Regions from separate parts of the Homo sapiens genome. Here region 2 is linked to region 1. Evidence: fine-mapped expression QTL. A gene starts in region 1. The other region holds a variant in brackets. All regions are shown on one strand. Distances are between the middles of the regions.

Region 1 (4,390 bases):
CTTGTTCAATTCTCTTGACTTCAGGGCCAAAATGAGTTGTTTATTACTTATGGCAAGTATAAAAAAGGCCATCTCAACCTGTGGTCAGTTCCACGAATGGCAACTTGTTTTCTGATAACTTGCATGCACATGGACAATAGCCAAATTTCCAAAAAGATTTAGGTACATCAATTGTATACCGATGGTCATTTAAAACCATTTTTTCCAGCAATATTTTAGCATCTAATTTGATAAATCACTGCATTTGGAGGCTGTGGGGGTGTACAGAGACCTTCAGAAAGCAAACATAAACTGGAGGCTTGGCGGTTTGAAGATATTCAAGCAGAAAAGTCTAGCAAAGAAAAAGGGGGTTGTAATATGGATCAGTCTCCATGTAACCTTGAGCCAATCATCTAACTTCTCTGAAACACCAGTTTTCTCATTTTATGAAACAAGATTTTATTCAATAAACACTATAACTTAGTGAAAGACTGGATCTGGTATCCCGTAGGCTTGGATGGATTGCTGGTACTAGTATTGGAGCTTTTGTTTCCCTGTTTGTTACAATTCGGATATTAGTGAGTACCCTACAGAGGAATAATGATTAAATTGTCTACTTAATTTACTCTTAAGTGTCTGACCACGTATAAGTGGTCAATACAGGCTGTTTTCATTTTTACTATTACTGATGGAACACACTGCATGACTAGCATTGGGAAAGAGGCCCAGAATACAAGGTTGTGCAGAATGCAAAGTCTATTCTCAAGGAATTCGCTTTGTAGGGAAGAGGTGGGGGGTTCAAATAGGAAGTATCAAATTCCTCATTGGGAAAGAAAAGAGGCTTCATAGAAAAGCTGCTGGAGCCCAGGCTTAAAGATGAGTAGCATTGGGGCCAGAACCAGATGTCTAAGAACTCTTTGAGGCTTAATGTTAGGAACTTTTGAAACTATTGGTCTGGAATGTTGTATATATGAAGTTCATTTTTTCAGCATCCAATATTCAGAACACATTCATTCATTAACTTTCCATCCAGAAATGTAATCATTAACTACTGCTGGAGCCTCCTTTCCCACAAAACCAAACAAAACTTGCTTAGCAATCCCAATTCTGAGGCTTGGAAAACACTTTTACATCCTACTCTCTGCTTGCATGTATGAACTCACATACATGAGTTGTGAGGTACTCCTCCTATATTCAGAAAATTGGAGGCCAATATCATAGGCACAGCCAGGGAATGCACCGGCCAAAGCTCAGGCTTTTGGGTGGCATTTGACACCAAGCTCCTTTTAAATCGGGCATCAGCTCTGGGTCAGCAGCCTCACTCCAGTCAAAGAAGAGGAGCCAAACGTCGCAGGAGCAATTTCAAAGACGTCTGGGGAACGAAAAGGGTCTTCGATCCAAGGACCAGCCTAGGGGCCATCGGGAACCAAGGCTCTGGGGGATCCCAGCAGGGCCCAGACGCCCGCCTCGGGCAATGTCGCTGCCTGCCCCGGGCCGCTCGCAGTGCCTGGGCCATACTGGGGTGCCCTGGGGTTTCTTCTCCATACCCAGACTCAGCTTCCCCGCTGGAGTCTGTCTTCCTGGAACACGGAACGCGGGCGGGCTGTGTTCTCAGTCACAATCAGCTCGGATGAGCTGGGGGGCGCGGGCGCAAGCGGGCATCGGCACCTGGCAGAAAGCGCCGCGCCCCCCGCGGGTGCGCACACCTCCGCTCCCCGGGGCGGCGCGCGGTCGGGTGTGCGGGGTACGGGGCGGGGCGGAGCGGAGCAGAGCAAAGCGCACAGGAGGCCCGCCTCTGCTCCCCTCCCCCGCCGGCGAAGATTGACACAGCTCGAGCACCCGCCCCAACCAATGAGCGCGTCCTGGGGCGGGCCCTGGGACCGGCTGCTCCGGCTACTTAGAGTCGTCGGCGCGGCGGTGGGAAAGCAGAGCCGAGCCGGGACTGTCCAGTGGGAGCAGGCGCCCCGGCCAGCGCAGACCTGGAGGCGCACGGGCGCCGCACCGCACGATTCGGCTCGGGGTAGAGCGGAGCCGCAGCCCCACGCGCAGCCCAGGACCCACTCGCCACCGCCGCTTCCTCAGCACCCATGGGGACCAGGAGACTTTAAAGGAGTTTGGGGTTTCGGGAGCAGGGAAATCACGGGTAGGGAGAAGCGGCTTTCTTTGCCTTGGAAACGGTTTTTCTTCATCCGATTGTTTGGATCCTGTGCTGGGTAGGAGGGAGAGGGGTCTTTGGGCTAAAAGTGAACCTCTCTACACACACACGCTCCCACCCACACCCACACACATACACTGCACTGGCTTTCTCCATCCTTCCCCTGCCTCTTTGTTAGGTTATTTTAGACAGAGCAGCCTCGCCCTGGCGCAGTCCCATTGGCCCTGATGGGGACAAGGCAAGAGAAGTAAGGGGCAGAGTGCACCTGCCTGTGAGGGCAGGTGTGCCCGGGTGCTTGGGCGTACGTGCAACGGCGAGCGTGCAAGCGTGGAGCTGAAATTGTGTACGAATGTGTGGGGTCTAAGTGTGCCAGTGTGTCGTCGCGAAGGTTTGTCATTGTGGGTGTATGTGACATACACCAGTATACCAGGCTGCCAGTGTCTGGACTCCCAAGTGTCCAAAATGTTGCTGGTGTCAAGTGAATGCCTGAGAATGTGTCTGATTGTCATTGTGCGAGCCGCTGTAAGGGGAGGAAGGCAACCTAGTGCAAAACTGGGAGGTGGGCTGGAGAGGGTGGGGACAGAAATGGGAGCTTGCTCCCAGCTCACTGGCCTTAGGCTCCCTTCTCCCTTTCAGCCCACCCCTCGGTCCTTCCTGGGTGTCCGTCTCCCACACTGCCACAGCCAGCACTCTCCTCCCCACCGGGACCCCGCAAGCTCTCCAGCCAGCCTGGGTGTTTTCTTCTGGGAGTTGGACCGAGTTCCCGGAAGGGGTCGGAGGCTGTGTGGTGGCGTCTGCTCTCGCCTGACCTGTGGCGGCTTCTCCGCCCCTCGTACCCCTGGGGAGGCACGGAGGACTCGGCTGGAAAGGGTGACTCCGGTGAGGGCACGTAAGCTAGCCGGCAGGTCCCAGGGGCACTGCACGTCTTGGGGAGGGACACCGAAAGGGGCAGCCCGGACTCTGACGGTGTCTCTGCCTCTCTGTGCCTCCGCAGATCCCCGCTCCTGGCCCTCGCCTCGCCACCTCATTGATGGGCAACCAACTGGACCGCATCACCCACCTCAACTACAGCGAGTTGCCCACAGGGGACCCGTCGGGGATTGAAAAGGACGAACTGCGGGTCGGGGTTGCCTACTTCTTCTCGGATGATGAGGAAGACCTGGACGAACGCGGGCAGCCCGACAAGTTTGGCGTGAAGGCCCCCCCGGGTTGCACCCCCTGCCCGGAGAGCCCCAGCCGCCACCACCACCACCTGCTGCACCAGCTGGTCCTCAACGAGACTCAGTTTTCCGCCTTTCGGGGCCAGGAATGCATCTTTTCCAAAGTGAGCGGTGGCCCTCAGGGCGCCGACCTAAGCGTCTACGCGGTCACCGCGCTGCCAGCGCTCTGCGAACCCGGCGACCTGCTGGAGCTGCTGTGGCTGCAGCCCGCGCCGGAGCCGCCCGCGCCCGCCCCGCACTGGGCCGTCTACGTGGGCGGCGGGCAGATCATCCACCTGCACCAAGGCGAGATCCGCCAGGACAGCCTGTATGAGGCGGGCGCGGCCAACGTGGGCCGGGTGGTGAATAGCTGGTACCGCTACCGCCCGCTGGTGGCCGAGCTGGTGGTGCAGAACGCCTGCGGCCACCTGGGCCTCAAGAGCGAGGAGATCTGCTGGACGAACTCGGAGAGCTTCGCCGCCTGGTGCCGCTTTGGCAAGCGGGAGTTCAAGGCGGGAGGGGAGGTGCCGGCAGGCACGCAGCCCCCGCAGCAGCAGTACTATCTCAAGGTGCACCTGGGAGAGAACAAGGTCCACACCGCCAGGTTTCACAGCCTGGAAGACCTCATCCGCGAGAAGCGCCGTATCGACGCCAGCGGCCGCCTGCGAGTGCTCCAGGAGCTCGCCGACCTCGTGGACGACAAGGAGTAGCCGCCTAGGGGCTGCCGGCCCCTCTGCCTCCCCCGCACCTCGCTCCCTTCCCTTCCCCGCACCCGGACTTCGCAGTCAGCGGTTCTCAACCTCTGCCCCGCCCCGCCACGCGCGTCCGCCGCCGGTGGCCCGGGCCCGGGCTGCACCCCCGCATCCCCAAGCCAGCGGCAGGAAGTCTCAGGAACTGCCCCAGGGCCGAAAGGGCGCCGCTGCGAGCGCCTGGCTGACAGCCACAGCGGTGGTGACGGTGCTGGGAGACCCCGCGTGCGCTTTCCCCTTGAGATGTAAACCGGGAACGGGGAAGGGGCTGAGGGGAGAAAGGACATGGCCTTCCCCGCGAGTCCATG
Region 2 (4,390 bases), 100 kb before region 1:
AGGAGGCTGAGGCAGGAGACTAGCTTGAGCCCCTGAGGTGGAGGTTGCAGTGAGCCGAGATCATGCTTGCTGCACTCCAGCCTGGGCTACAGAGTGAGAGTCTGTCTCAAAATAAAAGTAAAAAATAAAAGCACAAAGAGTTTATATCCAATTTTATATTTATGCATATTTAAGTAATATGAGGATAAAGATACTCTAATTCCATATTGGAGGGTCCATGAAAACATTTATTTTTGAAAAATGTACACACAATGGAGTTTGTTCCCGATCAGCATGGGAGCTTGATTCCTATGGTTCTGGGTTAGGTCTCCAGTGGTACTGCGGACTGCCAGAATCAGCTCCCCATGGACCAAAGATGGCAAATACATGACATGCAGGATGATACCAACACATTGCACTTAATATTTTTTTTGAGTTTTTAATTTTTTTCTATTCTCAACTCAAGTTAATGTTTCAATTACATTGAAAATGAGGAAATGAAAAAAAGGATGGGTTTTTAATCAATTGAATTTCCATTTGGGTTTCATTAAAATTGCAATGGATGTTATTATGGAAAAGTGTGTCTCAAAAAATAATGATAATATCAGTTGTTTCTATTCTTGTGATAGTGATAAGGCAACATTAGGTGAGATGCTGGGAAGCACAGTGTTCCCCAATGTTAGGCAACTTAAAACTGTTCAAGTTAAGCGTGGTGGCAAGAAGTATATTAAGATATTCCTTTGCTGAAAAGGCCGGTGTGAGCAGTGCTGTCATCTTTAAAAGTTCTATCGTATTAACTTGTTACAAATACCACTTATAAACTAACCCAAGTAATCTCATCAAGTTTGGATATTATTGGCCAGGCATGGTGACTCACACCTGTAATCTCCGCATTTTGGAAGGCCAAGGCAGGCAGATCACCTGAGGTTAGGAGTTCGAGACCAGCCTGGCCAACATGGTGAGGCCCTATGTCTACTAAAAGTACAAAAATTTGCCAGGTGTGGTGGCACACACGTGTAGTCCCAGCTACTCAGGAGGGTGAGGCAGGAGAATGGCCTGAGATTGCAGTGAGCCGAGATGGTGCCACTGCACTACAGCATGGACGACAGAGAGAGACTCCATCTCAAGAAAAAAAAAAAAAAAGAAAAAGGTTGGATATTATAACTGAATTTTGTATTTAGCATGTCAATGGTTTTTAAATCTTGACTTTTCTGGTGACTTTACCATGAATTCAAATGTCTATTAAATAAGCCTCAATTCAACTTAGTTTGATCTTAAAATAAGACTTAATTATATTAAACTTCAAAACATAATCCAGCTAAATTAAAAAAAAAAAACAAAATTGCACCATCATGGATTACAAGTGAGTTTTATCTAAAAGTTGTATTTTTATAACTGCAGAGAATTATTTGTAAAATGTTTGTAAATGGTATTTTAAATAATCCCAAATCAATAGCTTTAAATAACGCTCACAAGGAGGAACTAGTTTTCAGTATTTGACCATTCTTTTTCTTACTAAAATGTGTTACAATATATTCATTTTGTAATTTTCTCATTCAGATAAACAACACAATTACATTTAACAAGTCATGTTGGAAGTTGTTTTTATGTAAAGATTTTGAAAACAAACAACATATTTTCTTAGATACACTGATTGCTTCCGAATAGAAATATGAGTAAATACTCTTTTACATCATTGAATCATCTTCAAAATTAGTAATTATATGCCGCTGTGGAAATAAATAGTGAACAAGGCACTTTTTAAATATTCATATGCCAGGAAAACTATTTGGTAGTTAGTTGTTAATAAATTAATGCAGAATTTTGAAATATATTCTTTCCATAAAAAATTGTTTATGAAGATTATATAATTAGGTATTTAAGCTAAAACCTGACTGTTGTCCTTGCATCTGATTGTGAGCTTCCTGAGGACAGGACAGGAACAATCTAATTAATCTCCATGTTCCTAGAGGCTAAACTAAAGCCTCCTACAGGGAAGCCTTGTTAACTGAACTGAACTGAATTGAATGAAAGTGAATTTAATGAAATTGAAATGGATTAAATTACAATAAAATGTATGCCTTTAAATTATTGGTGCAAGATTGTGAATCAGCCTTATATAATCACATCACAGGGACACTGTCAAATTTGCCTTCCCTCTGCTAGTAGGCCTACTTCCTTTACTCCTCCTATCAAACATCCTGGTTACCCAGAGACAACTGATACAACAATGAGAAGAGGCTTTGGCTGGATTTAAAAATAAAAACAGAAACAGTGCAGTCAGATGTGCCAAAGTTTCCACTGTGGCTTAGGGATAAGAGCAGAGAACAAAAATCACAAAGACTTGGATTCCAATCCAAGGTCT[G/A]TATTTAGGAGTTTTGCAACTTGGGCAAGGCATTGAATCTCCTTAGCTCCAGGTTCTTCTTTCATAAGATGAGGATAACTTACCCTCTGGGTGCTGGCATGGTTAAATTTGGCCATGCATGCAAAGTTGTAAGCCCATAATAGGTTCTCTCTAAAGGTTGGTTCCTGTCTCCCTCCCTGTATCATTCACCAGCCCAAAAGTAAGTCATGCAGATGTGTCGGGCTACCTGGAACTCCAAGGAGGCCAGGACTGTGGCAAGCACTCTGTGGCCCTCAACTCTCTAGACTTTGTTGCCACTGCTGTGATAATCCCTTCTGTGACTTGATATTTGTTCCTTAACTGGAACAACAAAAAAAGAAAGTTCGCTTTCTTCTTGAGGAGTCTTTTGCTAAAGCCATCAACTCAGAAATACAAGTGAAAATGTGAGATGTTTTACGAAGCATACATGTATAACCTGCCTGTTTGGACTCTCATGATTTGCTTTACACGCTACAGCTCAGTGATATTAAAAACAAACAAACAATTATACACTTTGAATTTACCATAGTAAATTTACTGTAGCTTATCTGAACTTCTCACTTTTCAAGGTGGCATAAGATGATAGGAAATAATATTTGTTAATTAAAGCTGTCTTCAACTTTCACATTTAAGAAAGGATCTTTAGGACAGTCAATCAATTCAAAGTTAATTCTCTCCCCTGAATTCCAAGGTGTTCGGTTCAAGAGGGACACAAAGCGGTTGAGTGTCTGACCCTCATGTGGTCTTGGGCTGTTCAAGTCCTGATGGCTCCCATAGCCCATGGCGCCGTCCTAACTCCTCCTGGCCCCTGAATGGTCTACTGGCTTCTACTGCTTGTTCTATGGCTGGACAGCCTCACCACCTGACTCCCCAATATTATTAAACCGCTGACCAGCTCTTCCCTGCTTTCACTGGTGCTATGGACCCACTGAGCCCCTGCCACATCCTCATTTAGGTCCCAGCAGAGAAGGTGAACACAGCAGCCTTGCCCCTCTCCACTCAGGCCAGACCTCTGGCTCTCAACTCAGCATCCTCTGCTCCCCAGTGGGATGGAGCAAGAACTCCTGCAGCAGCCTCATGTCACCCCGGAGCAGAGAGGCAGGGGCACTATCACTGTCCTCTCCCTGGCTGACCACTTTTCTAGCATTTGTGTTTTGCTAAGGGACAGCCTGGGAGGGATCCACCACTCAGAGTCCCATATGGTAAAGTGGGGCGAAAGCCCCTTTGTTTTCACCTTTCTCTTGTAGCTGCCTGAGGTTAGTAATTTTTGTATTCATTGCCCCACGAAGGAGACAGGACTCCAGAATTTCACCTTTTGTCTTAATCTTCCTTTCTCTTTTTCCTTAAAATAAAGGGGTTTTTATTTCTGTTTTCTGTCTAGTAGGGACTTCTACTCCACCATATCTTGCTTCTCCTCCAGTGACCTGGGTTCTCAGCTGTCTACCCCTTCCTTCCCTAGGACATTACCCTTCCTGACTCAATAAAAATGGGGGTTAGTGAGTGAGGTCACATCATCAATATCTAGTAAGAGATGTTGCAAAATATATATTTTTAAATTTAAAACCATTATTCTACACATTCAGTCCTATTTTGTCATAAAATATTTGACAGAATCTGTAGTTAGAGCAATGACCTGGTTTCTGTGGGGTTAAAATCAGCGTAGGGTCCTCGTGTAGACAGAATAGGCAGCAGCAGCAGTCCCAGGGAGCAGGAGTCCCTGGGAGCAGTCCCAGGGCAGGAGAATCACTCCTCCATTAATTCTTCACACCCCAAACAGGCCTGGACACGTGAGTGCTCATTAGTGCATTGCCTTGCCTTGCTTGGCAGGCTGCCCCTCCGGTGCTCGCAGAATCCTCCAACAGGCTGGGCCCTGACCCTACATTGAGGATCCTGTGAAGCAACCTTAAGCCAGAAATCCAGGAGCTCAGCCTAGATGCATGCCTAGAGGCACATTCCATTCTCTGCTTCGGTAACCTGTCTCCCCATTTCTGAGTCTCCAGTTCAGGGCCAGTTCAATTGGATTGCTGT

Direction of the effects. Positions count from the first base shown, and alleles are read on the strand shown. Sizes are in standard deviations (SD) of each study's normalised expression.
For the expression in left ventricle of the gene that starts at base 1,902 in region 1, allele A in region 2 goes with a higher level than allele G (small effect, 0.36 SD a copy in GTEx).

Evidence for each region. PIP is the estimated chance that this variant, and not a neighbour inherited with it, causes the effect.
Region 2: its variant is fine-mapped to the expression of LRATD1 in left ventricle (GTEx, PIP above 0.99).

Annotation. Positions count from the first base shown.
Region 1 is chr2:14,630,816-14,635,205 of GRCh38, forward strand. It overlaps LRATD1 (LRAT domain containing 1), which reads left to right and starts at 1,902. Exons shown (of 2, transcript NM_145175.4): 1 at 1,902-2,122; 2 at 3,129-4,390. The coding sequence starts at 3,165. The coding sequence ends at 4,043.
Region 2 is chr2:14,531,115-14,535,504 of GRCh38, forward strand. No RefSeq gene overlaps it. Among named protein-coding and RNA genes, the nearest start is that of LRATD1, 99 kb to the right of the region's middle. The variant G/A (reference allele first, on the strand shown) is at 2,345.